4 linked regions of the Homo sapiens genome follow. The protein of the gene in region 4 purifies or fractionates together with the protein of the main gene of each other region. This does not show direct contact. Each region holds a gene or a part of one and is shown on either strand. Other genes may lie near its edges.

The links.
Region 1: the proteins of APIP (region 4) and VSIG8 purify together in Homo sapiens (affinity purification with mass spectrometry; 3 studies listed by BioGRID and IntAct, with this or other methods). This does not show direct contact.
Region 2: the proteins of APIP (region 4) and DSG4 purify together in Homo sapiens (affinity purification with mass spectrometry; 3 studies listed by BioGRID and IntAct, with this or other methods). This does not show direct contact.
Region 3: the proteins of APIP (region 4) and UBA3 purify together in Homo sapiens (affinity purification with mass spectrometry; 3 studies listed by BioGRID and IntAct, with this or other methods). This does not show direct contact.

What each region holds. Positions count from the first base shown.
Region 1 is NC_000001.11:159,859,638-159,867,661, forward strand, and holds the start of VSIG8 (V-set and immunoglobulin domain-containing protein 8 precursor), read right to left. Parts: upstream 3,021-8,024; 5' UTR 2,885-3,020; coding exon 2,836-2,884; exon of another isoform or gene 1,009-2,835; intron 1-1,008.
Region 2 is NC_000018.10:31,372,503-31,379,788, forward strand, and holds the start of DSG4 (desmoglein-4 isoform 2 preproprotein), read left to right. Parts: upstream 1-4,274; 5' UTR 4,275-4,409; coding exon 4,410-4,457; intron 4,458-7,286.
Region 3 is NC_000003.12:69,070,347-69,077,370, forward strand, and holds part of UBA3 (NEDD8-activating enzyme E1 catalytic subunit), read right to left. Parts: intron 5,165-7,024; coding exon 5,084-5,164; intron 1,272-5,083; coding exon 1,189-1,271; intron 1-1,188. UniProt on the Homo sapiens protein: Catalytic subunit of the dimeric UBA3-NAE1 E1 enzyme. E1 activates NEDD8 by first adenylating its C-terminal glycine residue with ATP, thereafter linking this residue to the side chain of the catalytic cysteine, yielding a NEDD8-UBA3 thioester and free AMP.
Region 4 is NC_000011.10:34,885,357-34,892,380, forward strand, and holds part of APIP (methylthioribulose-1-phosphate dehydratase), read right to left. Parts: intron 5,197-7,024; coding exon 5,148-5,196; intron 3,514-5,147; coding exon 3,396-3,513; intron 3,073-3,395; coding exon 2,937-3,072; intron 1-2,936. UniProt on the Homo sapiens protein: Catalyzes the dehydration of methylthioribulose-1-phosphate (MTRu-1-P) into 2,3-diketo-5-methylthiopentyl-1-phosphate (DK-MTP-1-P).

The sequences.
Region 1 (8,024 bases), on a different chromosome or scaffold from region 4:
GGAGCCTGGCTGTGTTCGTGTGTGATAGTGAGTGATGGTGTGTGCCTGGGACTATGGCCACAGGTATCTGTAGGACATTGTGAGTCTTTCTTGACTACACAGCATTGCGTACTGTGTGTGCTTCCTCTTATGTGATTGTGTGGCTCGCATGCAGCTGCCCCCACAAGCTGGCTTCCAGTGAGGCCCCTCCTGCCACTGAGTCAGTGGCAGGCAATCCTGGGTGAGGAGCCAGGATCCCAGGACCCAGGAGCTCAGGACTGAGCTCTTGTCCCTCCCTACCCTGAAGCCCCAGGCAGGCCTATCCCCAACCGGTTGGACCTAGAGAGGGATAAGACCGGGGGGTGTAGCCAGGGCCCCACCCTGGACACTCTGCCCTCCACCTCCCAGTCTCCAGCAACCCTGCCTCTGCAGGCCCCTCACCAGGCCTCACACACTCTCCGTCTGCGTTCTTTTTTGAGTCAACATGTCTTCTGGAGTCACAGCCCCAGGTCTCAGCAATCATTCTGTTCTATCATGTGGCTCAGGACCATGTTTACACATAGAGATCTCACACATGCACACACACAATTACACCATCACAGGCAAACAAATCGGCACGTGGCCCACTCTTACAAGGCTTCAAAATGCAGATACATACCTATATGGCCCCACCTTCCTACAAACACAGACACTATATAGATTCATTCAGACACAGACACAATCTGCACACAAACACAGAACATATTAATTCAAAAGACACACCCACCGTGTGTTCATATAGTCCCTGTATGTGTTCATTCAAGACCAGACATATCTATGGAAGCCCTGCCAGGAAGGCTTAGCCTGGCTCCAGAGAGGCCAGCAAGGGCCCTTTCAACACCCTCAACAGCTCAGGGATCCCTGAACATCCCCCCTAGGAACACTGGCTGGGCCATCAGCTCTGTCATAACCCAGCTAGACTCCAAGGTGACCCAGAGCAGGCAGGCTGACTGCTGGGGCTCTAACGGGACCTAGTGATGCCTCTTCCAGCTCCAGGCCAAGAGAACAACAGCTCATTCCTGAGATAAGGATCCTGCTGCCATCTGCCAGATCCTGAGGCTGCTCAAGGCAAGCCAGGGATGAGCCAGAACTCGGCTGAGAGCAGAGGCTCCACCCTGGAGAAGCACCGCTGGAAGCACCCACACAGGAAGGACTCTCTCCATGCCATAGGAGCCTGCCAGGCAGGATGGTAAGCATTCAGGGAGAGGGGCTTGGGAAGGAGCGACAGGCTGCAAGAAAAGCACCTCCACCCTGCACCAGGCTGAGAGATTCTTCAATTGTCCCAGACCAGGGAGCCTCACCCAGCTTTTCTATCTCCTTAGAAGTCTTCTCAACCTCCTCCCAAGGGTTCCAGCCTTTCCGCACCCCTCCCTCTCCTTGGGAAGTTGCTCCTAATGTCTCACCTTGATTCCTCTTGCTGTAGCACTAAGGAAGTACTACAGGGAATGTGAGAGGAGAGGCTGGAGAGAGGGAAGAAAGGCAAAGTGGAAGAGAGAGCTGGATGGGAGACTTGAGGAGAGACAGGAATGGAGGAATCACATGGGCTCTCCAAGGAAGAGGACAGTGGTGATTCTTTGCCCCCCAAAAGCACCAGAAACTGGCCATGCTTTACGGGGTGTCATCTCAATAGTGGTGCCTACTCTCTGCTTGCAAATTCTTTCTGAATCTTCAAGGTGCTTCCAGAACTCCTGATCTTCCCTCTGGAGGTAAGGGAGGGGAGAAAAGGCGGCTCCAGCTGAGGGTATTGATGCGTTAATGCAGCCAGTGCTGAGTTGTCCTCACACACCCATTGACACACCACACAGGGGGAAGTCCGGGTCCCCACAGCACAGCTGGAGCCTCCCGAGTGGACTCTGCCAGCCCTGCTCTCATCAGACAGAGAAGGGCTGCAGCTATCCTGCCGGAAATGTCATCATTCCCATGCAGGTGCACGCACCCACACACTCACATACACATTCACGCTCACACAAAGGCTGAAAATGTCACCCCGCCTTCCCAAATTCCTCCTTCATGCCCCTTCATCCCAAATCCAGACTGCAAGAGGGACTCGGAGCCCTTTCCAGTGATGTTGGCATAGAATGCCCCTTGGTGGAACTTGCCCCAACCTGGGCAGGAAGCCACAATGTCCAAACTTGAGCCCTGCCCTGTGGACCTGTCCTGGTGGGGTGAGAAGTCTCTGGAGTTGCCATCCCCACCACCCTCAGGCCTCATCCTAGAGTGGGGCACTGCCCTGTCATAGCACAGGGGGCCCAAGGCTGAGGTCTCAGGCCTGAGCTGTCACTGGCCATGATGGAAGAAACCACTCAGACTTACACCAGACTTAGTCTCTTGCCCTTTCAAGGCAAGTGACTTCCCTGCCCCTTGGCCCTGGCCTTGGGAGAGAAGGAGTAGCGTTGGGAATAGCACACAGTCTGATGAAAATTGATCCTTCCCAAGCTCCTCCTGAGCCCTCACCCAATGCCCGTGCTTACCCCTCTCCTACCCCACCTCCAGCTCCTGCAGAGCAATCAATCCCTCTCCTCCTAGTCACGGCATGAGCTTGCAGGGCACCTGCACACATGTGTGAGCCCGACAGGGGACATATAAAGATCCACTCAAAGACCTCTGCACTACAGACACACACCCTGAACATCAGGCACAGGGTCTCCTGGGGAAAGGTCCCCTGGTAATACCCACACCCGGCTGCAGCAGGGCAAGGGTGGGCAGCACCCTGCCAGGCAACTCAGGCAGCCCCAGGCTCCACTGTGAGCCCTTGCTGCCCCTTTCCTTCCCACCTAGCCTCATGCTGGCTACCCTGCCCCCTGCCCAGCCCCGTACCTGGGCTCAGGCACACGAGTAGAAGGTGGAATGCTCCTCCAACTCTCATGTCTCTAGGCTCGGTGTTTCCTCCGTCTGGGCTGGGTATCCCGTGGGGTCGTAGTGGTGGGTGTGAGGGGGTAGGTGGAGGGAGGGGGAGCTGAGGGCCCAGACACTGCCTGGGGTGGCAGGAAGGTGCAATGAGTGCCCAGCTGGGGAGCAGCTGGAGTTATTTCTATGGGAGGGAGGGGGCCTGGTCCCCGCCTTGGGGAGGAGTCCCAGGAACCCTAATTAGCAGGGTGACAGGGTGGCCTACCTGGGCATTACCCAGCCCTCACCCAAGCTCTTCCCTGTCCTAAGAGTGGCACAGGACAGCCAGCGGGACTTGTAATTAGGCACCTGTTAAACTTCACTTCCTCCTGGCCACATCCTCAGGGTGACAACAGTCACCTCATTTACAGCTTCCAAGGGCTCCCCTCACCACTCATTTGCTGCCTCCTTCCCTGGGGGAAGTGGGGAAGAGGAAGGAGAAGCCAGGCTTGGGAGAAAGAGTGGCCAGGACCTGAAGAGTTAATCCTGATCCCAGGGCATAGGGTTCCCCAGGAGTGTCCAGCCCACCTTCCCCCAGGCTTCAGGCCTTTCAAAGGGACTCAGGCCTCCTGAGCTGAAAGAGGAGAGAAGGGGTGTGTGCAGGAACAGAGTCTCCTCCTGGCTGTCCCCTCTGGAACTGTCCTCCACACCCATACTCGACTCAAGGCCATCCCCAAGTGTAGGGGACCCCTGGGAGCAGGGGTGCTATGGGGGGTCCAGGGTGTGTGCTAGGAGTAAGGTGACTGATGGGCTAGTGAGGGAGTGTTGGAGAGAACAGCGCCAAGAGGACCAGGGAAGGGGGTGCCTGTGTAAGCGTGTGCACCCCTCAGCAATGTCTGTGGGAGGGAGGCAGGATGTCTGTGTCAGGGTGTCTCTGTGAGGATGGCTAAGCCCCTCTGAGTGAACTTCTTGAGGGATCGCTTGGTGTCCTGGCTTCTCTGCCCAGAAAGAGTAGCCAGGTCTTGAGGGTTAATGCAGTCCCAGTATTAACTGGGTCCTTGAGACCAAGGACCCTCATAACCTGGACTGGTCATCGGGCTGACTAAACCAGCACAGTTCTGGGTAAGTTCGTGCTGGGGTGGGGAGGGTCCTGGTAGGCATGGGGAGCAAGTGAAGGGCCACCCCTTGTTGGCTTGTCTAAGGGGGACAGAATGGGCATGTGCCTTGTTGGACTCCATGGTGGGAGTCAGGACATGAGTGACCCCATTCAATAGCTCAACTCCCTCAAAGGAGTCAGGGACTGCCCCCATCCCTACCATGGGGCACAGAAAGGGCAGAGGAGGAAGAGTGTTAGGGAGAGTTATGGGGCTCAGGGATGCTGCCAGGGCCCACCCCTCTGGGGAAAAATAAGTCAGAACATTAAGGAAACACAAGGAGTCCACGCGTCTCTGCATTCCAAGCCGTTGCACCTGAACTCCCAACAATAACAGGGCGCTCTGAGACCTACCAGATGTACACAATGAATATCTTTATTTCCTTATTTATTTTTAGGTTTATGGGATTGTCCTGCTCCCTTTGAAGAGCAGGGATCATTATCCCCATTTTACAGATGGGGAAACAGAGACCTGGAGAAACATGGGGATTCAGCCAATGCGGCTGGTGCCTAAGCTGGGATACCCAGGTACCCAGGGTGTCAGTCCAGAGAGGTCCAAAAAATGGTCTTGGTGATCCTGTGGATTACTAGACCCACTCACGAACAAGAACCATGGAAGGTCAGGGTGAGTGGGAGGGAAAACAGGTCAGACCACGAACAGAGAGATTGAGGAGAAAGCAGTAACATTGTGGTTCCACTAAACTACAGTGCAGGCTTCAGATTTAATTGGGTTCTGGATGTGGGCTAATGTTAGAGCTGGGGTTAAGTTTGGGGTTAGTTGAATTATGAATGAGGTTGAGGTCAGATTTGAGGTTGGGATTAGAGTTAAGGTTGGGATTAGGGTTAGAAATACAGCTAGAATTGAGGCTCAGGTTTATGGCTGGGATTTGTGTTACGATAAGGAATAGAGTTTTAGTTTCATTTACAGCTCTGCCTGGGAATACAGTTAGGGCTAAATCAAAGGCTGGGTTTAGATTGATTTAGCATTGGGTTAGAACTAAGTTTGAGATTCACATTGAAATAGGCTGTGGTTAGGGTTGGAACATGGTTTAAAGACACGTAAGCAGCGGGAGTTGATGGGGATCAAAGATGAGGTTTTATTTCTAATATAGAAAGACTTCAGCCTCCATCTGCTAAATCCAGGTTTGGCTAGAATTTTCAATCCTTAGTGCGGGGAGACTACTAATGGCACATGTTGATTGGGGTCCCAAGACTTGGAGGAGGAAGCCAAATGTACACGAGCCCATCTAAGGGGTATGAGGCAACTAAATCCCATAGAGAATGGACCCTCTGAAGTCCTGCTCCACTACTAAAGCTCACCACCTGGCCAAGCTCCAGAAAAACATCTGGGGAGGAGACGCAGGAAGCTACTGACAATGAGTTGGGCTCTGACACCAAACCGAACTAGAAGATGGGGTCCATCAGAGGGAGTCTTACTGAGTGGGGAGGAGGGGTGGTCTGGATTTGGAGTCCTTAGGAGATGGGAGTTGGGAGAAACTGAGGGCCTACATGCTCCTAGAACAGCCACTTTATGGGGCACCACATGGGGGTCTTTCAAAGCCTGAAAGGGCAGAGTGCCATTGTTGTTTCCCCTTGACCCTCTGAGGCTTAATTGCTACCTTCTTGCAATTTGAGTCCTATAAAAGAAGCTGTCAGCCTTCCAGCCCTAAACCCTGAGCCCTGCAGGGTTTTCAGGGAGGGCAGCAGTGGGGAGGCTGTGGATGGGGTGAAGGCACTGGGGTGTCAGCATAGTTTCCAAAGCATATGTCACAGTCCTACAGTCCCCTCCCTCTGGGCCCAGCTCACAGTCCGTGTAAGTCTCTGGGCCTTATCCTCAGCAGTGGAAGAGGGCCCCACTCCTAGGAAGACCCCGTCCCAATTCCTCCCTCTCATTTTTCCCCAACCAGTCTCCAGCCCAAACATCTCATTTCCCCACCCACTTCCTTTTCAGGTTTTATAAAGGTCTGGTCCAGGAGACTACTGGGGTTCCCCCTGTGACCCCAGAGAGAGAGAAGAAAGAGATTGGGAGAGATAGTGATGAGTTAAGGGGCAAAGACAGAGACAGGGACAGAGGCAGACAGAAAGACACATGGTCTAAATGGCCCCTCCAGAGACTCAGAGGGATACAGAGGAGGCAGAGGGCCCAGGCCACGAGCTGGGAACCAATACAAATTTCCAAAAGGGCCCCTTGCTTTTTCCTAAGAAATCCATGACTCTCCAGGGAAGAATGGCCCTGCTTTGACTGGTATTTGCTTCTATTCTAAGACAGTAACAGAAAATCAAAGACTGGCTTAGAAAGGAGTAAACAGGGAGATACAGGAGGTAGGAAGAGGCTGGACAAAAACTCAGAGAAGGCCACAGATTGCTTACCAGATGAAGTGCAGCCCAGCCCCAGAACCTTTCTGGGAAGGACGGACAGAGGGCTTGGGCTGCCTACTCTTCCTCCAAAGCCTATTCTTCCTCCAAAGTCCCTTTCATGGCAACTCCACCCCACTCCTCTAAGCCCTGCCCTCCCCTGCCTGTACTTGCCCACCCCAACCCCTCTCAGTGGCCGCCAGACTCCCTGGGCTCAGGCTCAATCAAGCTCCCCACAACCCCTGCCTTGGCTGGCACTGCAATTTGACTCATTCTAAACTCCTCCCCACACAGTCAGCAAGCTCCTCAGCCCCCTCTCCCAAGTCCCCATGTAGCCCAGGGCTCACCCTGCAGCACCCAGGGAGGAGCTGTCCTGCAGAGGAAACCTCTGAGGTAAGACTCTGGGAGCAGAAGCTGTGAGTGACAATGGATAGGCAAAGAGTCACAGAGAAGCCAAGGAGCCTTGCAGCTGCTGTCTGTCCACCCAGCTTTCAGTGATGATTTGGAGGTGGAGGTCTGCCAGGTGAGGCCATGGTTGCATGAGAAGGGCAGGGGGCTCAGAGGTTGCATGGGTGGTGATGGGACAACGTCGGATTCTGGTTACAGAGAGGGATGAGATCGACATGTGGGGCTAAGTTTGAGGGTGTGGGTTGGGTTCGAAACTAAGGCTCAAATCAAAGCTGGCAGGGAAGAGCCGTGAACACAGGTGACACAGGGACTCCCCAAGCTCCTGCTTAGGTTTCCCAAACCTCAGTGGTTCTGACTGGTACACTTCAGAAGAAGTGGGATTCTAGGAGGAGCCTGGATATGCCCACATCTCTCCCATCAAGCAATGTCCTGAAGCTGACAGACTCAGAAGAGCAAGCAGCACACACATAGTCCCCATCAATTAAAGGAGTGGCTGGAGTTGTCACTACATCAACAAAGCACAAGAGCAAAGGGAGGCGATTGAATGCCACCAACTGAATTGTTAGCAAGAGAATGAGTGGAGGCGAGAAGAAATCGCTTGTAAAGGCTATGTGATTCCCTGATGACAGATCTGAGGAAGAATGAAGAGGCTTTGAAGATAAAGGTATCTTCACCTCGCCAAGATCAACCACATCCTGCAGAACCTTCATTCATTCAGCAAACAGCCAGGCTTTGTGCTAGGCCCTGGGGAAATGGCAATTAAGGAGACTCAGTCCCTATCCTCACAGAACACCCCATCTGACACGGAAATAGCTCCTGGCCCGCAATGTGGTAAGATGCAGTAATACGTGCAAGGCCCCTGACTTAGTGGCAATGATGTTTAAGCCGAGATCTGAAGGATAACTAACAACGGCGTGCCAGAGAAAAGAGTAGCGGGTGGAGAGAGGAGGCCAGGGGAATATTTCTGGGCTTGGTAAGTAAGCCAGGTCCCTGCCAGACATGGACTGAGAAGAGCAAAGCCAGGAGTGACAGCTGACGATTATTTTTTAACTGAGGAAGGAAGATCCTTGAGAACGGAACCTCTTGGGACCTTCTACCCAGAACACCAGAGCACCTCACTGGGATCAGAGCCAGGCCATCGGGTGGATTAAGCAACTAAAATTGATTGTCCTGAACCATGAGTCTGTCTGTTTATGGGGAGAGAAACTTTGAGATGAATTAATCCACAGGTCCAATGGGACTTTGACATTTTAATTTGTAGAAA
Region 2 (7,286 bases), on a different chromosome or scaffold from region 4:
AGTACATGAAAGAACCAGTATTAAAGACATCAGCAGCCCAGTGGAAAACCAGGAAAAAGGAAATAAATATTTCAAATAAAAAGAAATATAAATGGCCAGTATCTCTCCCCGGCCCCTGGCCCACCCCATGAAGAGATGCTAATCTTATTCACACTAGAAAAATGTTTTTGACTGGGTGCCATGGCTCACGCCTGTAATCCCAGCACTTTGGGAGGCAGAGGCAGGCAGATCACTTGAAGTCAGGAGTTCAAGACCAGCCTGACCAACATGGTGAAACCACGTCTTTACTAAAAATACAAAAAATTAGCCAGATGTGGTGGCGGGCACCTGTAATCCCAGCTACTCAAGAGGCTGAGGCAGAATCGCTTGAACCCAGGAGGTGGAGGTTGCAGTGAGCTGAGATTGTGCCACTGCACTCTAGCCTGAGTGACAGAGGGAGACTCTGTCTCAAAAAAAGAAAAAAGAAAAATGTTCTTTTTTACCTGGTGCCATTTCTCCCTGGGCCACCCATAGGGCCACGTGATTACCCTGATTCAATAATTCTTCAACTTCAGCCTGCCTCCCGAGAATTACCTAAAGAGTATGTTAAGAATGAATAATTCTAGATCTCATCCCCAAAGCTTCTGATTCACTAAATTTGGGGCCAGGGAACCTGCATTTTCTACATAATGGCCTAAGAAATATATTTCAAAAAACACTGCCTACCTTTTGACCTTCCTATTGCTGGATTTCTTCCTCAGACATCCTGAGCTGACCAGATTCCATAGTCGAGGTTGCCAGATATATAACTAACAGCATCAAAGGTTAACCATGTACATGATACAACTTTGTCATAAGAGGGACACTGCCAGTGTCACTGAAGAAACCAGAGTGACATCTAAATAATTATCACACTGTAGAATGGTTGCCACTGTAGTCATCGGGAGGCAGGAGGCAAACTAAGATGATATTTCCTAGATAAGTATGTAGCAAGTATGCAATAAGTATGTAAGTAATACGCTTTATTTAACATACAGCTAGAAGCCACGCTCTTCTGTCTCCACTTATTTGGAATACATCCTATACCTGTGAATTCACAGAGATAATCAACAAGGCATCTCTGTCAGGATGTAAGCATGATTTTAGGGTGTAAACTAACATCATCTTTATGGAAATAACATAACTCTTTACGAAACTGATGTTTAATCTCTATGATTTCTAACACCCACTAAATAACCTGGTTGGCCGGCCCCTTGTTGCCATACATAAGTTGCCTTTAATGAGGGGACAGGATGTTTATCTTCAGTGTGGTAGGTGAACAGACATGTGTTCACAGCAATGACTCTAGGTCAAAACCCTGACAAGCCTTGTTTACCTTTTGTCCCCGCCTCCCCAGGCCCAGGCAGATGAAAACCTTTTGCTTGCGTCAGCTCTGGAAACAACTTGTGCTGCATTTGACCACCATACTTTAGGACCATAATTATTTTTTAAATTTCCTTCCCCCTAACTCTTGCTTTCAAGAAATAGAATTGTCCTTGGATATTTGAATAATATCCAGTAGTAACCCTAGACTAGAATAATTTGATGGAAAAGTTTGCCCTAATGTCATTTCCACAATATCTTTGTCTGTATAAATTACATTTCTGTTTTTCAAAGAGGACTTGTATTGGCATGTATTGAATTCCTTGCCTTTTGTGGCATTGATTTGAAAAGTACAGGTGTTAAAGCTCTCACTGTGTTCTACACAGATGTGATGTGGAGAATAAAGGTGTCTTGCTACTTTATACAATATTATAGAAGCATAAGTACAATAATTAAATATCAGTAGCATCCCTAAAAGCCAATGTATGGTTTCATCTGAGCAAATGAAATGTCACTGGTTTGACATCAAAAATAAATACTATAAAAAACTTGCTAAAAATTCTGCTCATAGAACCAACAGTTCAGTAAACTCTAAAGTATGGGAAAGTCTTTTAAAGCTAATAGTGTTTAACCATCCACTATTTTGCCTTCACATACGTAGCTAATAATGAAAAGTGGCTTGGTATTTATATAAACTGACTATGAATGAGGAGATGGAACTCTTGCCTATCTTTGACCCTAATAAACCATACAGCCTCCCTAGACTATCACTATCACATGGGTAGGAGAGAGGCAAGATAGGAGAGATTGGATTATATGATCTCTGTGGTATCTTTAAGCATTAATGTTTTATGCTCTGTTTCTACAATGACTGATACTCTTCAAGAGAAACGGAAGTAGCTACTCTTTATCTACACAAGCTCAGAACCATAACCAAGTTTTGTCTTTGGGAATTCCACTGTAAAATCATCCATCCCCTGTGGGAAACAGTAGCTCACACCTGTAATCTCAGTACTTTAGGAGACCAAGGCAGGAGGATCACTTAAGCCCACGAGTTTGAGACCAGCCTGGACAATATAGCAGGACCTTGTCTCTACAAAATATTTTTAAAATTAACCAAGTGTGGTGACATGCACCTGTAAACCCAAGTACTTGAGAGGCTGAGGTGGGAGGATCACTTGAACTCAGGAGGCAGAGGTTGCCGTGAGCTGCACTCAGACCACTACTGCACTCCAGCCTGAGAAGCAGAGCAAGACTCTGTCTCCAAAAAAAACTTTAAAGCAAAAGATCATTCCCACAAATCTCCAAGGAGTAAACAGAAATGAAATGATGGGGCTTCAGGTAGTTCCTCCTTAGTTACTGAAGAATCTTTTAAATATGTTCATAATTATAATCTGGATTCAAATTCTGGATACCATTGAAATCAGGAGTTTCAAATGGAGAAAGCTAGAGGTACCCACATAAATGATCTAGTACCTATTTCTATTGCTTCCTGTTTCTTTTCTTTAAAACTCATCCTATAAATAGCATTCAAGTAGATAGAAAATCTTATATTTAGAAGAAAATATAAGAAAAATCTTATATGTAGAAGAAATCATCTATAGTGTAAACAAAAGATAGAGACCTTTGTGAAATATCTCCTTCAAACACAACAATAGAGAAGAATGTTGTTTTTCCCTTGTAAAAAGCAATGTCACTTAAAGACCTGGAGTTGTTTCATTAATTCTCTTAGGCAAATTAAATTATCTAATTCAACATGACATGAAATAATGCAAAAGTAAATTACTTTATCTGGCTTCCAAAAATACTAAAACTACTTTTCTCAAGAAACTAAGCAATACTTAGAATACATTCTATTACCAGGGTCAACCTTGTTTCTGAATTACAGTGATGGGATAGTGAAGACAGGAGGCAGTCTCCCTTTGAAATTCTCCAACCAACATGTATTATCTATCAATCAGAGAACAGTTAACTGCATTTTCTTTTAAGTTTATTGATGTTGCTGCCAGCCTGCAATGTTTGCATCAGGACACTCTATACCCTGTTTCAAACCCATACTAACAAAGGAAAAGGGAGACACGAAAAAGGGAAATAATATTCAAAAATATCCAGATCCCACTCTGGGCTTTTTTTCATTAAATTCTCACGTTTCCAACTTCAGTTTCTCCTTAATAAATATTTGTGGTGGTGTAAAATGTGTTCCTCACCCACATTATGTACTTTTTATCAGTGGTAATACTATGAGAAGTGAGAATGTTGTATTGTAGTTACTTTAAAATGATTTTGTAAATATCATATTGTAGAGGTTTGACTGAATAATCAAGAAAGAAAATGCCAAAGTATGGAAACAAACATACTGGTACTAGTTAAATCAGAGTTCCTTCATCTTAACTTTGTTATTTCAGAAAATCTTTAAAATTGAGAGTGCGGTTCAACCACAAGACATTTTAAAGAGAGAAGCAGGACTCAACTGAATTGAAATGAGCGTCATTATTCTATCTTTCTTCCTATACCATACTTGAGTCCTGATGACTTTCAACAATGGCCTCTGCTAAAAGTATCATTCCTTGAAGTGGGTTCTGCAGTGGACATGTGTGTGTATGTGTTGTCAGTATATGTAATTTTGCTTTTACAATGTTGGCAGTAAGAAGAAGCCTTCTAATTTTATTCAGCATGATGATAGGCCCTAGCATTTTAATTATTTTTTATGTTGTGAGTAATTTATTATTCACTGGCTATCTTCCCTGTAAATCTTGTCCTCGCTCTGTAAGGTTTTTCTTTGGTGTCCAACAAAGGGTTTCATTGCAATAAGAATCAAGGTGTGTCTAAATTCTTACCCAGAGCCCAAACAATGCCAGTCTTCCAGACCAGCCTGGGAGTTTGGGGTGGGGAAACAGTCATTATAGAATATCTTCATCTCTCTGCCCAGAGATCACCACAGTTATCACCCATGCCCTCCTAAAAGGGTGTCTCAAAGCATATCTTTCTGTAGAGCAGAATTCGGAACTGAGAAGACGAGGGCTCAAATTGAATCTCACAGGATTTGCGTGCAAGAGAAACCCAAAGGAATGGATTGGCTCTTCTTCAGAAACATTTGCCTTTTGATCATTCTAATGGTAAGTAGAATTTAAAGAGGTGGGAAGGAAATGCAGCCTCAAGGTCTTGTCTCTGTCAACTGTCGGGCTTTCTACATGGGATTTATTCCATTTTTAATCTCCTTCCTGCAAAGAGAGTTCTAGAAGTCCAGCCTCTGTTAATTTCAAACAACTCTCTCCGCCTTGAGGAACAAAATGCCATAGAGAAGCGGGGTGAGAATCTGGCTGAATTAAATTTATATGCCCTCAGAGACATAATCTACTTCACTTTGAGTGTTAGGACTATTCTAAAATTTTAAATTGGAAATAAAATTCATATTCTATGATCATATAAATAAATCAGATAGATTGCTGTGAAAACTGCCAGTGCAAATGGGTTCTAAATTTGAAGGGAAGTTAATCAAACCCATTTCTTTTCAATAGTTATTTCCCTATGAGTTTCTTTCAAAGTGGAGGAATGATAGCCATGTTGAAATTACATTGCAACTAATGATGACATACTAAAGTCATGAGAACTTTTTCCAGTCAGATATTGCTAAAGAAAAATGAAGCCCAGCCATCAAGACAAAACTTTTCTGGAATTATGAATGCATTCCTACAGACCAGCAAAGAAATATTTAAATGACTTATTTCTTTACAGTAAACATGGCATCTTGGATATTATATTTCTTTCCTCTAACCTTTGGGTGCCCAAGGTGTGACATGATTTCCAGACAGGCAGCATGCATAGCAAATATCCTACCCTAGAAAGAGATAATTCCAACTCCAAAGAAGAACAAAGTTCCAGTTGGCCAATCAACAAACTATTGCCAATTCTGGGAGGGTAAGAGGACAGGATTATTAGGAACTGTACAAATTTTTCAAAGTAAATTAAGACAAATGCATTATAGTTGGCCACACTTCAATCTCCCAGGAGTATCCAGGTTAGCGCTACAACCTAAGCTTAGAAAGTGATTCCCATCCTATTCTTAGGCAAGTGGCAATTATACCAGACTCCTCTGAACATCAGTTGTAAGAGACAGAGAGTAGCTAGGGCTGGGAGAGATGGGAGCACGTCATTGTCCAAGAGGCACAGTGAGAGCTACTCTTCTGGAATTCACATTTCTAAACTTCAAGAGCAGTGCGGGAGCCGAACACTGCCAAAGGGCACACAACCCCAAGCTCAAAAGGGAACGTGACAACAGTGGTAGAATATTGCATCCTCTGAGTTTAGGAGACAGATTATTAAACAATACCATTTTTGAAAAATATTTTTAAACTTAAAAACATAAGACGAAGGGCAATATTCTGTTACAATGATCATTATTTATTTACTAAATAAAATAAATGTTACTAAAAGAAGAGGCAAGAATCGGACTTGGTCTTCAATTGAAATAGTAAGTTATGAGGATATACCTCTTGTTACTCTTCTACCGAGTATATTCATGCTTTGACTCAGATAAACTTTTGGTTTTCTGTAAGGAAAATTGTATGTGTCAAGATTTTAGAGGCCACTTCTGAGCACTAAATCTTGCCTCCCATTGCCTTCTGCACAGGCATGATTTATGATAATATTATTTAATTGAAGAGTTGATTCTTCTCCTTGATCTTGAAAGAGTATTATACTTCAGACTCTCAGGATCTTTTTTTGGTAGTATTTATTTATTTTCCTTGGTAATACTAGCGTTTTTAATACTTAATTCCTCCTACTCCTCATTGATATTGAAGTCTTTGTGTTTGACATTTCACGGTAATTGTGAAAAAGTTCTTTAAGTATTTTTTTTCTTTATGCTTGTCTAAAAGATCCCTTACCATATCAATTAATAGTGTCTGGAATTGGGAGGTAGAGACTTCTGGCATATTTCAAAATTGAAACAAATACAAGAATTGTTTAAGGAGAATCAATGAGATGTTATAGATATTATAGGAAAGTAGACATGCCTACTTCTCTTTAATTTCCTGAACTTGAACTCTGCCCCTTCTTCATTAACTAAATCAAAGACTCTCTGGGGCATCATTGCAGCTTACACTAATGAGGGTGTGGCAGCCTCTCAGAGACTCACAGGTACTTTGTGTCAGCTACATCTCAACCGCAAAGAGCACTGTAAACAAAGTTCTGACTGGCTAACCAGCAAAAGGTACTCAAAACTCTAGATTACAATAGGGCACTGATTTTATCACGAGTCATTTGGCATTTTCTTCCTAAGGATGCTTATCATGTTCTTCTATAAAACAGACAGGGGTGGTGAGGGACATTCAACAGTGAATCGAGATTCAGAAGTCCCGGGTTTGAATTACAGCTCCTCTTCAAAGTGGCTGTGTAACTTTGGCAAAAGCACCCAACTTCTCAGGGCTTCCTTTGACCTCATGTGAGAATGTATGGTTAGACATGATGTTATTAAGTTGCTTCCACTGTAGAAACTGCAATTCTAAAATTATCTCCACTGAATACTTACATAGTAGAAGTTCATTTCTGGCTCATAAATAGTTTTCATAAATTTGGCTGGAGAATCTGAGGATTTAGGCAATTCTATGGATTGTATAAATTTTATAAGGAAGGAATCACTTACGGCAGGACAGTTATTAGCTGGAAGAGGCCTATATTATATCAAGTGGATAAGGTCATAAAAGACAACCATTTATCAGATAAGAATTTTTCTCTATGTGTGATGACCATTCATGCTACATATAAGATGTAAGCACTTCCATTAAATAGTCTAATTCTTGGAAGTTAAAAAGGTAGGTGGCTAAATATAGCTGTTATCTCATTGCAAGTTGAGAGCAGGCATCAAAATTTGAAAACATATTTAAAATTAACTTAGCCACTTATCAATTTAGTTCTCACATGCACTCAAATATGTTATTCTGAAA
Region 3 (7,024 bases), on a different chromosome or scaffold from region 4:
GTCCCATTAAGATCTTCCACAAAGATAATGTAGAGGTTTTATGCCTATCCAAAAACTTAATGTTACCTTTTTTGCTAGCTCAACTTTATCCTATATACCCAGAACAATTTGAGCACTGTCAGTAACAGATGCAAACTTCCTAAATAGAGAGAGAAAAAAAAAGTCCTTATCTCTGTGTATCTTTGACTAACAAATATACACTTTTACCTAAACTACTCAAACCCCTCAATATTACATACTAAATTCATGAATGAACATTTCTTCATGTCTGGATACATGGTCTACTTCAGTTTTTGTTTTTTGGGTTGTTTTGTTTTTGTTTTTGAGACAGGGTCTCGCTCTGTTGCCCAGGCTGGAGTACAGTGGCATGAACACAGTTCACTGCAGCCTCCAGATCCTGAGCTCAAACGATCCTCCTACCTCAGCTTCCCATGCAGCAGGGACCACAGGTGCACACCCGGCTAATTTTTTAATTTTTTTGTAGAGACGAAATCTCCCTTTGTTGCCCAGGCTGGTCTGGATCTCCTGGGCTCAAGCAATCTTCTCACCTCAGCCTCCCAGTGTTGGGATTACAGGTGTAAGCCACCATGCCTGGCCTCTACTTCTCTTCTTAAACTCATCTTTAACAAATCACTCCTTGATGTTCTCTATATTCCATATATGCCTAAGGTAACCATCCCTCTTTGTTCCATTCCAATTGGTTCTGGTTTTTCTCTCCTCGACTTTCCATTTTCTTTCCCCTTGTAGGAAAAGCTCAAACTCTTTCCCAACTTTATTGCTCCAGTCACCATTCAAACCTTGGCTCACAAATCCCTGCCAATCTCTCACTAGGGCCTAATACTCCAGCGAGTATTCTCTTCTGACATCAACTGGAGGAAGAGCTACCGTTCTTTCCTTTCTTCAGAGCACAGTTAACCTGAGGATATTCCCAAAAATCACATAAACCTTTGGAAGGAGACTTCTTCGAAAAAACAAAAACATGTATTTGTTTACATAACTACTATCACCAAGATGCCCAAAATTTTCTTACAAAACTTTACCTACAATGGGAATGGTAGTTTTTGTTTTTTAAAATAAAATTAGTATTATCCTCTCAAGTCATTTTTAAAAATTATTAAACTGCAATGTACAAGTTCAAATGATTATCAGAGCTTAAAAAAAGAAAACCGCTAAGATATTAAAACTTACCTAAATAAAAACTGCCTATTTAGATTGGAAACATCTATAGTGTCCATATCTATAACATGAATCTGTCTAAAACCAGACAAGGCCTGTGGGAATAAAAACAATCCAATTAAGCAGAAGTTTCCTCACATTTAAAAACGTAACATTTGTTTTCAATGTAGTCTTAAGTCTACAAATTCTCAGTAATAAATTCTGTGTAATTTGTATTCAATGGCTGAAAGACTCTTGCAAGGTATATAAAATTCAGAGTTCTTGAACAGGTCAAAAGTGTACAATCACTCAGTTTCAAATAATCTATAACCAAAAGAGAACAACTCAAAATTTCTACGGATTGAAACTATTTTACATATATATATAATTCCATAAACACATTTGTAAAATTTGTTGCTTTGCTGCTATTGATGGATACTTTAATTTTACTATGCTTGCTATTATTTTTTCAAAATATTGTTAAAAGCAATTCTACAAGCTTTATTTTAGTTTACTTAATATTAAGCATGCCACAATTCAGAAATGGTAACTATTATAAGACATATATTATAAAAACACACACATGGGTAGGCTGTATTTGTAAAAGGAGTATCTTAAAAGATATTGAATCAAGAGCATGCAATTTAAAAAGCAGGGAAAGGCAAAAAACAAAAAACCTGTTAGGTTTCCATAATAATGCCATGCATTCTGAACAGTACAACCACATTCAAATTTAGCAGCAGATGCAAAAAACTGAAAAAAATAAGTCTCAATAACTAACTTTTCTGGTCTTGGTCAGTTTACTTCGATGATCAAATAACTTGACAATAATTTCCTCATTTTTCTGTCCCCCTATATACCAAGAGATCTTCAAGACTTATCCATATTTGTGCTTTCAAAGTCCTGACTGTTCTCAAACTCCACAGAAACTGTACTTGTCAAGTTCACCAATAACCTCCGTGTTGCTAACTCCAATGACCAATTCTCAATCTATCTGACCTTACCTTTCTGAGGTATTAGGCTGGGTGGGTCACTTCCTCCACCCTAAAACATGTTCTTCAGTTGGTCACCACACTCATGAGAATTTAAACACTTTTTAAAAATTGGTTTCCAGTTCATTCAGTTTTCTTCCTACTTTACTGGCCAGAATTCGGAGTAGCCTTGTGCTTTGTTCTGGTGATCTCAGACCATCTTGTAAGATATAGACCATCTAGCAGACATCTCAGACTTAACAGTTTCCAAAACCAAACTTGATCACCCTTGCTCACAACAACCAAATCTGTTCTTTTCCAGATCTTCCTCATTGCAGTAACTTCCTCATTGCAGTAACTCCATCTTTCCAGGTGCCCGCCCCTAGAGCAAAAACCTTGTTGTATCATCCTCGATTCCTTTCTCTCACAGCACACCACCAATCCATCAGCTAATCCTGTTGATTCCATCTTCAAAATATATCCATAATCTGACCACCTGTCACCACATCCAATGCTACCATCCTGTTTCAAGTCACGTTGTCTCTTGTCTAGAGGACTATAATAATCTAATTAGTCTCTCTGTTTCTTCCCCCTCTCTGCTCTTCCCTTAGTCTATTCTCAATGCATCAGCCTCAGTAACCTAGGTGAAAAGCCAATCAAGTCTCTCATTGCATAAATCTCTCCAATGACTTCATGACTCAGAGTAAAAGCGACAGCACTTACAGTAACCTCCAAAGTCTTTTGTGATATCCACTCCAAGCCCCTCCATCTCCCATTATCTGTCTGATATGGTCTCCAAAAATGCTCCCCCAACCCACTTCTGCTCTAGCGATGATAGCCTCCTTGCAGTCCTTGAACAAACAGGAGTGCTCCACTTCACAGCTTTGTACCTGTTATTCTCTCTAACTAGAATATTCTTCCTACAGATAACTGTATGGCTCATTTGCTCACCTTTGTACTCAATAGCACCTTTTTGTAAACCTTTTCCCTTCACACCATTTGACATACTATATACTTACTTTTTCATTCAACTAAAATGTGAGTCCCACCAATGCAAACACCTTTCTGTATTTGTTCAATGCTGTATCTTCAGCATCTAAAATGGTGCTTGGCATATGGGATGGAGGCTCAATAAATATTTGCTCAATCAGTAATATTAGTATCTTTTTTTTTTTTTTTTTGAGACGGAGTCTCGCTCTGTTGCCCAGGCTGGAGTGCAGTGGTGTGATCTCGGCTCACTGCAAGCTCTGCCTCCCGGGTTCACGCCACTCTCTCGCCTCAGCCTCCCGAGTAGCTGGGACTACAGGCACCTGCCACCACGCCCGGCTAATTTTTTGTTTTCTGTATTTTTTAGTAGAGACGGGGTTTCACTGTGTTAGTCAGGATAGTCTCGATCTCCTGACCTTGTGATCCGCCTGCCTCGGCCTCCCAAAGTGCTGGGATTACAGGTGTGAGCCACCATGCCCAGTCTAGTATCATATTCTTTTTTGTTAGAATGAGCCTTTAGGGGGCTTACAATGAATTAAATAAGCAAAACAAGGAGTAAAATTGAAAACCCTTAGTTTTCTTCTTTTGTGTAAAAGATTACTATAATGCAATAAAGAAGAGGTCACTCCTTAAAGTTGCTTGGTGACTAATCTTCAGATCTAATCTTCAATTATTTTACACTTAAAATTAGTAAATGTCACATTTGCAAATAATGGCTTCAAAATTTAATAAGCTTTAGGAAACTTGTACATTTATAATACCTAACAAAAACCAATGCCCATCCTCCATAAACCCTTTCCTTCTCTAAGTCTTTGGTTCTCACACTGCTAGAGTATTTATGTTTGATACGGTACTGTCATTTTGGCATTCCACCACAGAGTATATCATGCATACTGCTATTTATTTCATGTGAGATTTATCTCCCCAATGAAACTTCAGATTGATTGAAGACAGAGACCACGATGACATATAATCCCCACAGAACCCAGCAAGACATTAAATACAGTGAAGTATATTTAAGTTTTTACAACTTCACTCAAGCGACATTAGTGTTTCTTAACAAAATTAATGTGGCTATGTTTATATTTAAACTTTAACCCCCTTGGCCAATTATTTGGGTCCTCCATCTGGCTGTGACCTGCTTTATTTTCTAAAGAGTCTATTCCAGCATTTCCACTTTTCTACACAGCAGTGAGAAGCCTAGCATACAACTCTAAACCAATTCTGCCTCTACTCATTTGTTACATAAACTCATTAAAATTTATAGAAAGCGACTTTGTGATTAGAAAAAGTCAAGGAAACCAATTAATTAAATCAAATTATATACTTAATTTATTTCTAAATATATGCAAATAAGTTCAGTAAAGGTTTAGCTTTCCCAAACCTTAGGTGTCCACAATCGTCTTATTAGGTCATAAAATGACCTAATGGTTCACTGAAAAAGAACACTTAACTAAGAACTGATGACCTGGATTCAATTCCAGGCAAATCGCTATAATCCACAAAAACTTCAGCAACTCAGTCAACATCTCTAAACCTCAATGTCTCCCTCTATATAAAATGGGGTAATGCCTTACCCACCTAGCTGGGTTATTTGGGGAAGCAAAAGAAATAATAAATTATTTGAAACTATACATTAAAATATGAATTGCCAGTTTTGTTATTTACTTCATTGAAGTTAGGAGCGTTTTGCCAGAGGAAGCACCAAAAGTTGTTTGTTAAAGATCAGAGAAGAAAACTGAAGTATGAAATTTTATCAATAACTTTATAGCTGAGAGCTTTAGAATTTAAAAAGTTCCAAAGTTCTACCATTTTAATTACTGTTTGGAATTTGGCATGCTAAACTTATCTAACAAAGGCTCAAGAGAAAAGGTTAAGAATCACGAGAAATTCCCTAGTATGACAGATAAGTAAGGTTTACTTATCACAAAGAAGAAAAAAATATTTATATATATATGTATATATATTACCAGATTTTTCAGGAGCTCACATCCTAAGCCGCCAGCTCCAATGACTAGAACTTTACATGTATCTAACAAGAACTGGAGAGACTGTAAAGAATGGAAAGGCATATTAAAAGCTGGGTGATAACCGCAAAGACTATAAATAAAGCAACAAACTTTAAAATAGTTTCTGATGTTTCCAGGAAAAAATGCCACTAGGATAAAGAGGAGACTTTGTATTTGCTCAATTATTTGAAATTTGTGAATTCTATTGAACCAGGAATTCTAAAACTCTAATGATTTCAGGAAGTTTCAATGTTAATTTTTCTTTTTTTTTTCTTTTTTTTGAGACGGAGTCTCGCTCTTGTCACACAGGCTGGAGTGACTGATGGGATCTCGGCTCACTGCAACCTCCGCCTCCCAGATTCAGGTGATTCTCCTGCCTCAGCTTCTCGAGTAGCTGGGATTATAGGTGTGCACTACCACACCTGGCTAATTTTTTATTTTTAGTAGATACAGGGTTTCACCATGTGGGCCAGACTGGCCTTGAACTCCTGACCTCAAGTGATCCGCCCGCCTCAGCCTCCCAAAGTTTCTTGGATTACAGGCATGAGGTGCCGCGTCCGGCCATTAATGTTTTTAAATTGCCTTTTATTGTATGAAAGTTAAAGGGTATTTTTAACAAGGAAAACTATCTCTAATTTGTTTTTTAATTTTTGCAAAGGGATAGAGAACATCAAATTCAGTTAACTGACTTCCTAAAAATATAAAAGTTTAAAAATTTAAAAAACAGAGGATCAAGCACTGCCCAAAGTGTTTAAAGGAGTAAAACAATAAGGTAAAAAGAGTAACAGGGCTGGGCACTGTGGCTCACACCTGTAATCCCAGCACTTTGGGAGGCTGAGGTGGGTGGATCACCTGAGGTCAGGAAAGACCAGCCTGACCAACATGGTGAAACCCTGTCTCTACTAAAAATATAAAAAATTAGCCAGGTGTGGTGGTGGGCGCCTGTCATCCCAGCTACTTGGGAGGCTGAGGCAGGAGAATCACTTGATCCTGGGAGGCAGAGGTTACCATGAGCCAAGATCACACCATTGCATTCCAGCCTGGGCAACAAAAGCAAAACTCCATCTGCGGCAGATGGAAGGGGAAAGAGTAACAGCTGCTTTTTTTTTTCCTTTTTGAGACAGGGTCTCACTGTGTCACCCAGGCTGGAGTGCAGTGGCATGATCAGAGCTCCCTGCAGCCTCCACCTCCAGGTGCAGTCAAGCAATCCTCCCACCTCAACCTCCTGAGTAGCTGAAACCAAAGACATGTATCATCATGCACAGCTAATTTTTTTTTCTTTTCTTTTTTTCTTTCTTTTTTTTTTTAGAGATGGGTTCTCTCTATGTTGCCCAGGGTGGTCTGGAACTCTTGGGCTCAAGTGATCCTCCCGCCTTGACCTCCCAAAGTGCTGGGATTACAGGCGTGAGCCACCTTACCTGGCCAACATCTCCTTTTGAATAAAGTGAGCGAAACTCACAAAACATGAGATAACACGAAAACATATAAAACTCTTAGAAAATTCCTTATCAGCAGAAATACAATCATTTAACAGAAGTAACAATCTTAAATTATCAGGCAAAAAAAAAAATTTAGAAGCACAAGAAAATATGGTGTGTTATCTAAAGAAAGACAGAATTAATACTTTCAATTCTTTTTCTTTTTTTTTTTTTTATTTTTAATGCTTTCAGTTCTGCCCAGCATTAAAGGAGAAAGTTATTCACATGAGACACTGGGCCAAACCAAGAGTTTGCACGTTAATTTATGGGAGTAACACAATATTTCTATTTCAAAATACTATCTTTTTATAAATACAAAAGCACATAAAGATGTGCTATACTTTTCCCTACCCTGTAATAAAAAAAAGTGACATATAAGTGAACACTTGCCTTAAGATAGACACTATCAGTCCAAAATTCTACG
Region 4 (7,024 bases):
GTGGTCCTATAAGATTATAATGGAGCTGAAAAACTCCATTATACCTGCACAGACCTGGTGGACTGAACAAAGGGGGCGAACGTGGGAATAAAAGATAAAAACAAGAGAGTACGTTTGGAAGAAGAGGTCGGGGGCACCTTGCCTCTAGTGGACAAGGGCCCCGAGCTGTACACAGCCCTCCGTATTTATTGGTAAAAGAGATAACGAGAAATGGGGGGCAATTGTCGGGCAATTGTCAGTCGGCCACTTTGGTTCACAGCAGGCTTGCAAGACTGCATCCTTTGAACAATAGGCTCTAGATTTCTCAATGGATAACTTCAAGGAGCCCGGTGCCAGGGAGTGATGTCCCTCAGCAAACCTTTTGGTGGCAGGCGCAGTGTGAGTTTGCTCACATCCTGCATTCATGATAAACAGTTTGCTGTTTGATCATATAGCCTCCAGTGGAATGCTGAGTTGATCACGATCCCTTTGGCCTTTTTGGCTCTCAACAACTCCTATCGCCTAATGACCGCATAGCTGTCATAGGGTCACAGCACAACATATTATGCAAATGTCTGTGGTGATGCTGGTGTAAACAAACCTACTGTGCTGCTAGCTGTATAAAAGTACAGCACATACAATTATTACAGTATGTAATACGTGATGATAATGACTATGTTAGTAGTTTATGTATTTATTACTCTATAATTTTAAAACACTATTTTAGGGTGTACTCCTTCTACTTATATGGTTTTTAAAAAGTTAACTGTAAAGCAGCCTCGGGCAGGTCCTTCAGGAGGTATTCCGGAAGAAGGCACTGTTAGTTATCACAGGAGATGACAGCTCCATGCATGTTACTTGCCCCTGAAGACCTTCCACTGAGACAAGGTGTGGAGGTGGAAGGCAGTGATATTGATGACCCTGACCCTGTGTACTCCTAGGCTAATATATGTGTTTGTGTCTCAGATTTTAACAAAAAAAATTTAAAAAGTTAAAAAAAATTAAAATAGAAAAAAGCTTATAGAATAAAGATATAAAGAAAATATTTTTGTATAGCTGTACAATGTGTGTTTTAAGGTACTATTACAAGAGTCCAAAAGTTAAAAAAAAAAAGTAAAAGCTTGATAAACTAAAAAAGTTACAGTAAGCTGAGGTTATTATTAAGAAATGTTTTCAATAAATTTCGTGTAGCCTAAACATACAATGCTTATAAAGTCTATAGTAGTGTAATGTCCTAGGCCTTCACATTTACTCACCACTCACTCACTTATTCACCCAGAACAACTTCCAGTTCTGCAAGCTCCGTTCATGGTCAGGGCCTTAGACAGGTGTGCCACTTTTTACCTTTTACATCATATTTTTTTTTTACCAAACCTTTTCTATGTTTAGATACACAAATACCTACCATTGTGTTGCAATTGCCTACAGTACTTTGTACAGTAACCTGCTATGCAGGCTTGTAGCCTAGGAGCATTAGGCTATACCATATACCCTGGGTGTGCAGTAGGCTATACCATTTAGGTTTGTGTATGCACTCTGCTGTTCACACAATGATGAAATCACCTAGTGACACATTTCGCAGAACATATCCCCATCCACAGTGACAAGTGACTGTATTTTAAAGCTGTTCTTTATATAAAAGATAAACTTAAAAAAATACAGTAGAGAATTTTAAACTCCATCCTTTCTTACCTCATCCAGCTTTCATTGCCTTTCTTTTGATTAGACTCAGGATTCTCTTCAAATTCAGATAAAATAACACTGCCTCCTGAGCTGTGTTAATGACTCTATTACTCATTTCCCAGCTAGACTCCAACAGAATTGCAAAGGGCCACCATGCTTGGCCTCTCCACAAAATTGCAAAGACTCTCTCTTATGCCCTGTTCCTCTACCTTACTTTTTCCAAACTCTTTTCAGAAAAACTGATTCTTCTGACCTATTTTTATTTCCTCACCAAAACAATAACATTCATATGAAACTGATAGTACCCATAAGGCCTCTCCTTCAGCCCCAGATATGGAAGAGGCAATCTGGGGCTCTACTTTCCTCAGTATGTACACTTCTCTTAATTTAAATATTTAACTTTTGTAAACAGGTGTTTCACAGTCCTGAGGAATGCTTTAAGCACACAATAAATATTAACTGAAATCAAATCAATTTCTCAGTGCACTAGTTTAAACATGCACATTCCATTACATGCAGTAAGAATATGATATTGTGGTAATAACACTTTAGTAAAACTGGCACCGTTTTCCTCTAAACAAGGCAAGGTAGAATCAAGCCCTTTAGGAAATTAAGAGTGAAGGTTCAGGAATGAGAATGCTAATAAACTCAAATGAAATGCTTAGCTTGTCCCTGAACACTGAGAACATGTTTCTTCCTGCCGTTATATTCTAGAATTATGAAGAATTACTACACTTTTGTGGACTGATGAATTTATTTAAACTGATCTAGAATGGTAATCTATACTTACTATCCATTTCACCTTAAACACTGAAAAATTCTAAAAATATAGAGATCTACTTTATTAAAAAAACTTACATAAATATGAAAATATTCCAGAAATACTAAATTAAATCACCATGAAGTATAAACTGTAGTCACTGGTCAAATTTCTGAAGACAAAGTGAAGTTGAAGATATCTTTGGCTGCCTCAATACAGGAACATAATCTTTCCATCATGATAGAGATCTCAGTCAAGATTTTTTTCAGTTTAAACAAACATTTCATTATTCATATTACTAATAATTTACCATGGCTGGGGTAGGGGCGGGAGAGGAGGGAAGACATCCCATTCGTGTCATGAGAATAGGTCTAGAAGTGTAATATTAAATGGAGTATTATTTAACACAGATCCCACGACATCTCATTATATGCATAAAATGATCAGTATTCTATTTATCAAAGAGAAGGAAGAATTCTTTTCAAATTATTTAAGAAAAAGGAAAAAAAAATACCTATAATACCCTCCGGAAGTACATTTCTTTATTCCTTTTATCATCTCTTGATGTGTAATTTTAAACTCCCGTCCTGGAAAGAGAAGTGTGGCCATCACAGCAGCTTTAGAGTGGGTATGAATCACTGCACCTGCTCCTGAAGGAGGAAGAAGAAAGCCGCATGCTCAATGAAGACTGAATTATAGCTTTTAAAGAAAAAAAGTCCATATAGTTATACTTATATTTACATATGGTTATGGGCTTATTTTTCCTGGCATGGAATAAGTTGGTAGTAGGCAGGAGGGTAAGTGGAATAATGGACCTTCCTCATAGGTTGATGTGAGAACTGAGTAAGTTCATGCACTTCAAGTTCTTGCACATGGTGGGTATCCAAGAAATGTTAACTGAAATAATAATTACCATTATTTAGAGGAGCCTACTCTGCAAATATTCTTTATGTTGAATATATTTTCTGCATACCTCTCATTGTGTAAGCATTCATGAAAAGAGGAGTACACTGGCTTTTTTTTAGCTTCTTCGATGGCGAAGGTCCACTTATGTCCTTTTCATTTATATCACAAACAAACATGTCTTCAGGCTATTTATAGAGGGGAAAAAAAGAAAAAAAGAAGGCTTGTAAAATATCAATTAGAAATGTTCCTTTTCTTGTGTACATATACATAAGAATACAAGAAAGTTTATCTATAGTATACATACTTGTGTGTATATTTAGTATACATATACATAGAGTGCTAATATATGCATATATTTAACTTACATTTTAAATATATAATTATAGTTTCTCAAAATAATTTAGCAATTTTGAGAAATAAAACAGTGATTTCTACTAGTAAAAATATTCTCAGAAGTTTAATACAAATCCCAAAAATTAAAAAAAATTTGAAGACAAAAAATGATATGGAAAATTACTATTTATGTAATGATGTTACTGCTGTCATTTCAACAATTTAGCTTCTCAACTTTGCCCTATAATTTCACAACTGTATTTCAGAAAGTCTATATAAAGAAATCGACATTCCAAAGATGGGTGTTAAAATTTTTTTCCCCACATTTTGTTAGATAAAAGCAAAATTTTGAGTAATTTTTCTAACCCTTGAGAAATTTAGATGGTACTCAGAAAGGTTAATCTCAATAAGGTATATTCTTCTTAAAGCTTAAGAAATTATGTAGATCTACAGGTTTTTCTTTTTTTTTTTAACTTTTATTTTAGGTCCAGGGGTACATGTGGAGGTTTGTTACATAGGTAAATTGCATGTTACAAGAGTCTGGTGTACAGATTATTTTGTCACCCATGTAATAAGCATAGTAACTGACAGCAGTTTTTCCATCCTCACTTTCCTCCCACCCTCCACCCTCCAGTAGGTCCCAGTGTGTATTGCTCCCTTCTTTGTGACTGTATGTACTCAATGTTTAGCTCCCACTGTAAGTGAGAACATGCGGTATTTGATTTTTCTGTTCCTGCATTAATTCACTTAGGATAATGGTTTCCAGCTCCACTCATGTTGCTGCAAAGGACATGATCTTGTTCTTTATTATGGCTGCATACTAATCCATGGTATATATGTACCACATTTTCTTTCGCCAGTCTACTGTTGATGGGTATCTGATCCACATACAGTAAAGCATGCGTATTTCTGTAGCTTTTATCTGCCAGGATTTATTAAAAAACTACAATACAAATGTTTTATTAACAAAGCAGCTTTTCTTTTTTTTCTTGCATTAGAAGTTAAATAATTATGTGTTTGCTTTAACTAGATTTGGGGTATTATTCTGGCATTAACACAGAATAAGACTTCTCAAAATTTGAAACAAAGTTTCATAACTTGAAATCCTGAAATTAGAATAACTTTGCTATTAGGAAATATGAATTAATTTGGTTCATCTGAGACCATCAATCTGATTATTCCACCAGCCTGATAAAGATCGTAGTGTTATAAAGCTGCAAAGTTATAATTGCTCTTTACTGTGATTTAAGATTGCACTATTCACTTTTGCCCCCTATAGGTTGAATGAGATTTCAAAACATACACCGGTTGTATGGAAGATATCTACCACCTTACAAAACATTTAATAATTACTCAATAAATGTTTGCTGATTAGTTATTCAAATTGCTATGATAAAATGAATGTTTTCTCTTAAAATTAATTCCATTTCATAAAACAGTAATTAAGAAGAAAAGACACTGAGGTTAAAGAATCCCATTACCATACCTGAATTCGTTCCTTTTGCACTCCTGAAGGAGCAATGTAGATTTCATCGCTGGCAACACAAAACATACAAATTGGTATTTATTTATTTCCTGCTTTTGCACAAAGAAAAGTTTGCAGTCCAATCATGCATGTTCTTTATAAATCAAGCAATACAGCCAGTTGCTTGATTTAATTATGGATTTTGGCTGCATAGAAAGAAAGCCAAACTACATCAATGCCTTTGTAGTGCTGGTGGCATTGTAGAATATTAGTTGTTGCTTTTGTCTTCTACGTTTCATATATATTTATTCTTTTTATAGTGCAAAGTTGGTGGTAACCAGGCTTTTATCCTGTTAGGGGAATAAAAATCTGAAAACATAAGTTTTCAGCGTCTTTAAACATGAATAAGCAGAGTTTAACCTATGTGAAATACAGTTATTCTAAAATCCAATCTGGAAAATATGCTCAATAGAAGTATATTTCTGTCATGCAAAGAATCAGGTTTGATTTATTGTTTGAAATGCTCTTCTTAAACCATGAAGTTCAGAGACCTCTGCTGGACAGTTTCTTAAATTACTGTATTAACACTGGGCTACTTTTTGGATAGAATCACATGCTTCCCATTTGAAAAGCATACATATCTTGGAAAAAAATTTAGTAATAAAGCTAAAACAACTACAAAGAGTTCAAAATATCAGAATGGCTACATGTGAAGATCTCTTTGTTACAGGATGTTGGACTAAGGGAGATGCTATAGACTACCATTTACCACAAGGTGCTCTCAAATTTGATTTGGAAATTAATTTCAAATCTTCTCTAAATTCCCTCCACCCTCAACAACAACTAAACAAACGTCCCTTGGCTCACATATCAGGTTTTTTCTCTTCTCGCTGGATATCTTTGATAACTTACCAGTTTCAGTTGCTGCCAGAGAGTATTAATGAGCTACTGCATATATGCAAACCAAGAAAATGCCAGTACCTGCATGCTCTAGTTTCTGCTAGTAAGGCACAGACACAGGGATATTGAACAAATATCAAACATTTCATAGTGTAAATGAGGATGATGGCCTATATACCAAGCTGCTGAAGTTCAGGTTGCTAATAAACCTGTAGGCTTGGAACCGATAAAAATCTAAGGTGAAATCAAAGTTTCTTTAAGGTTCCACTGATAAAGTCTAGAAAACAAATGTCTGATAATGTGAGTGGAAATCCAATGCACTGTTAGCTGCACGCGAGCATTTGCTTTCATGAAGTGGCTATTGTTTCCGAGTTCTGCAACATAAGGATAACATAAAGGGACATTCCTCTGCAACCAGTGAGAATGGGTTGGGATCATACTATTAACAAGGGCTCTTTGTGAATACCAGTGATCCAAATCTTGTGTCCTTGTGTAACATGGAAGAAGCTCTAGGATGGTACATGGTCCACTCACCTCCACAGATAAGTGGACTTGTGGGTCTTCTTATGTGGGGAGAAATTTATGCAGTCCTGGGAATAGACTCAAATAAAGTACAAAATGGTCTGCTGGTAAGTAAAACCCATCTATAAAGTAGGAAAACCAAGGGTACTCTGTTTATTCAAGTGACTTGGTATGTTGTAAATGTCTTTGTAAAATGGAAATTAATTTAGACTTTGATGAACTTTGGGTAATTAAAAGATTAGCCAAATGTTTTAGAAAAATATATTTACACCTACAAAGAAAGAGATATCTGGATAAAAATATAAAAATGACAGAGCTTTTTAGAATAGAAACATGCCAAATATTAAAGTGAAATATCTACTTGGTGCTTTAAGCCACAAACAGAAAGCATTTTGAATTTCAAGTTACTAAATTTTGGAATATACTTCTCTGTACTCCTGCATTTTCACTGTGGTAAGCAAGGGCCAAACCCCAAG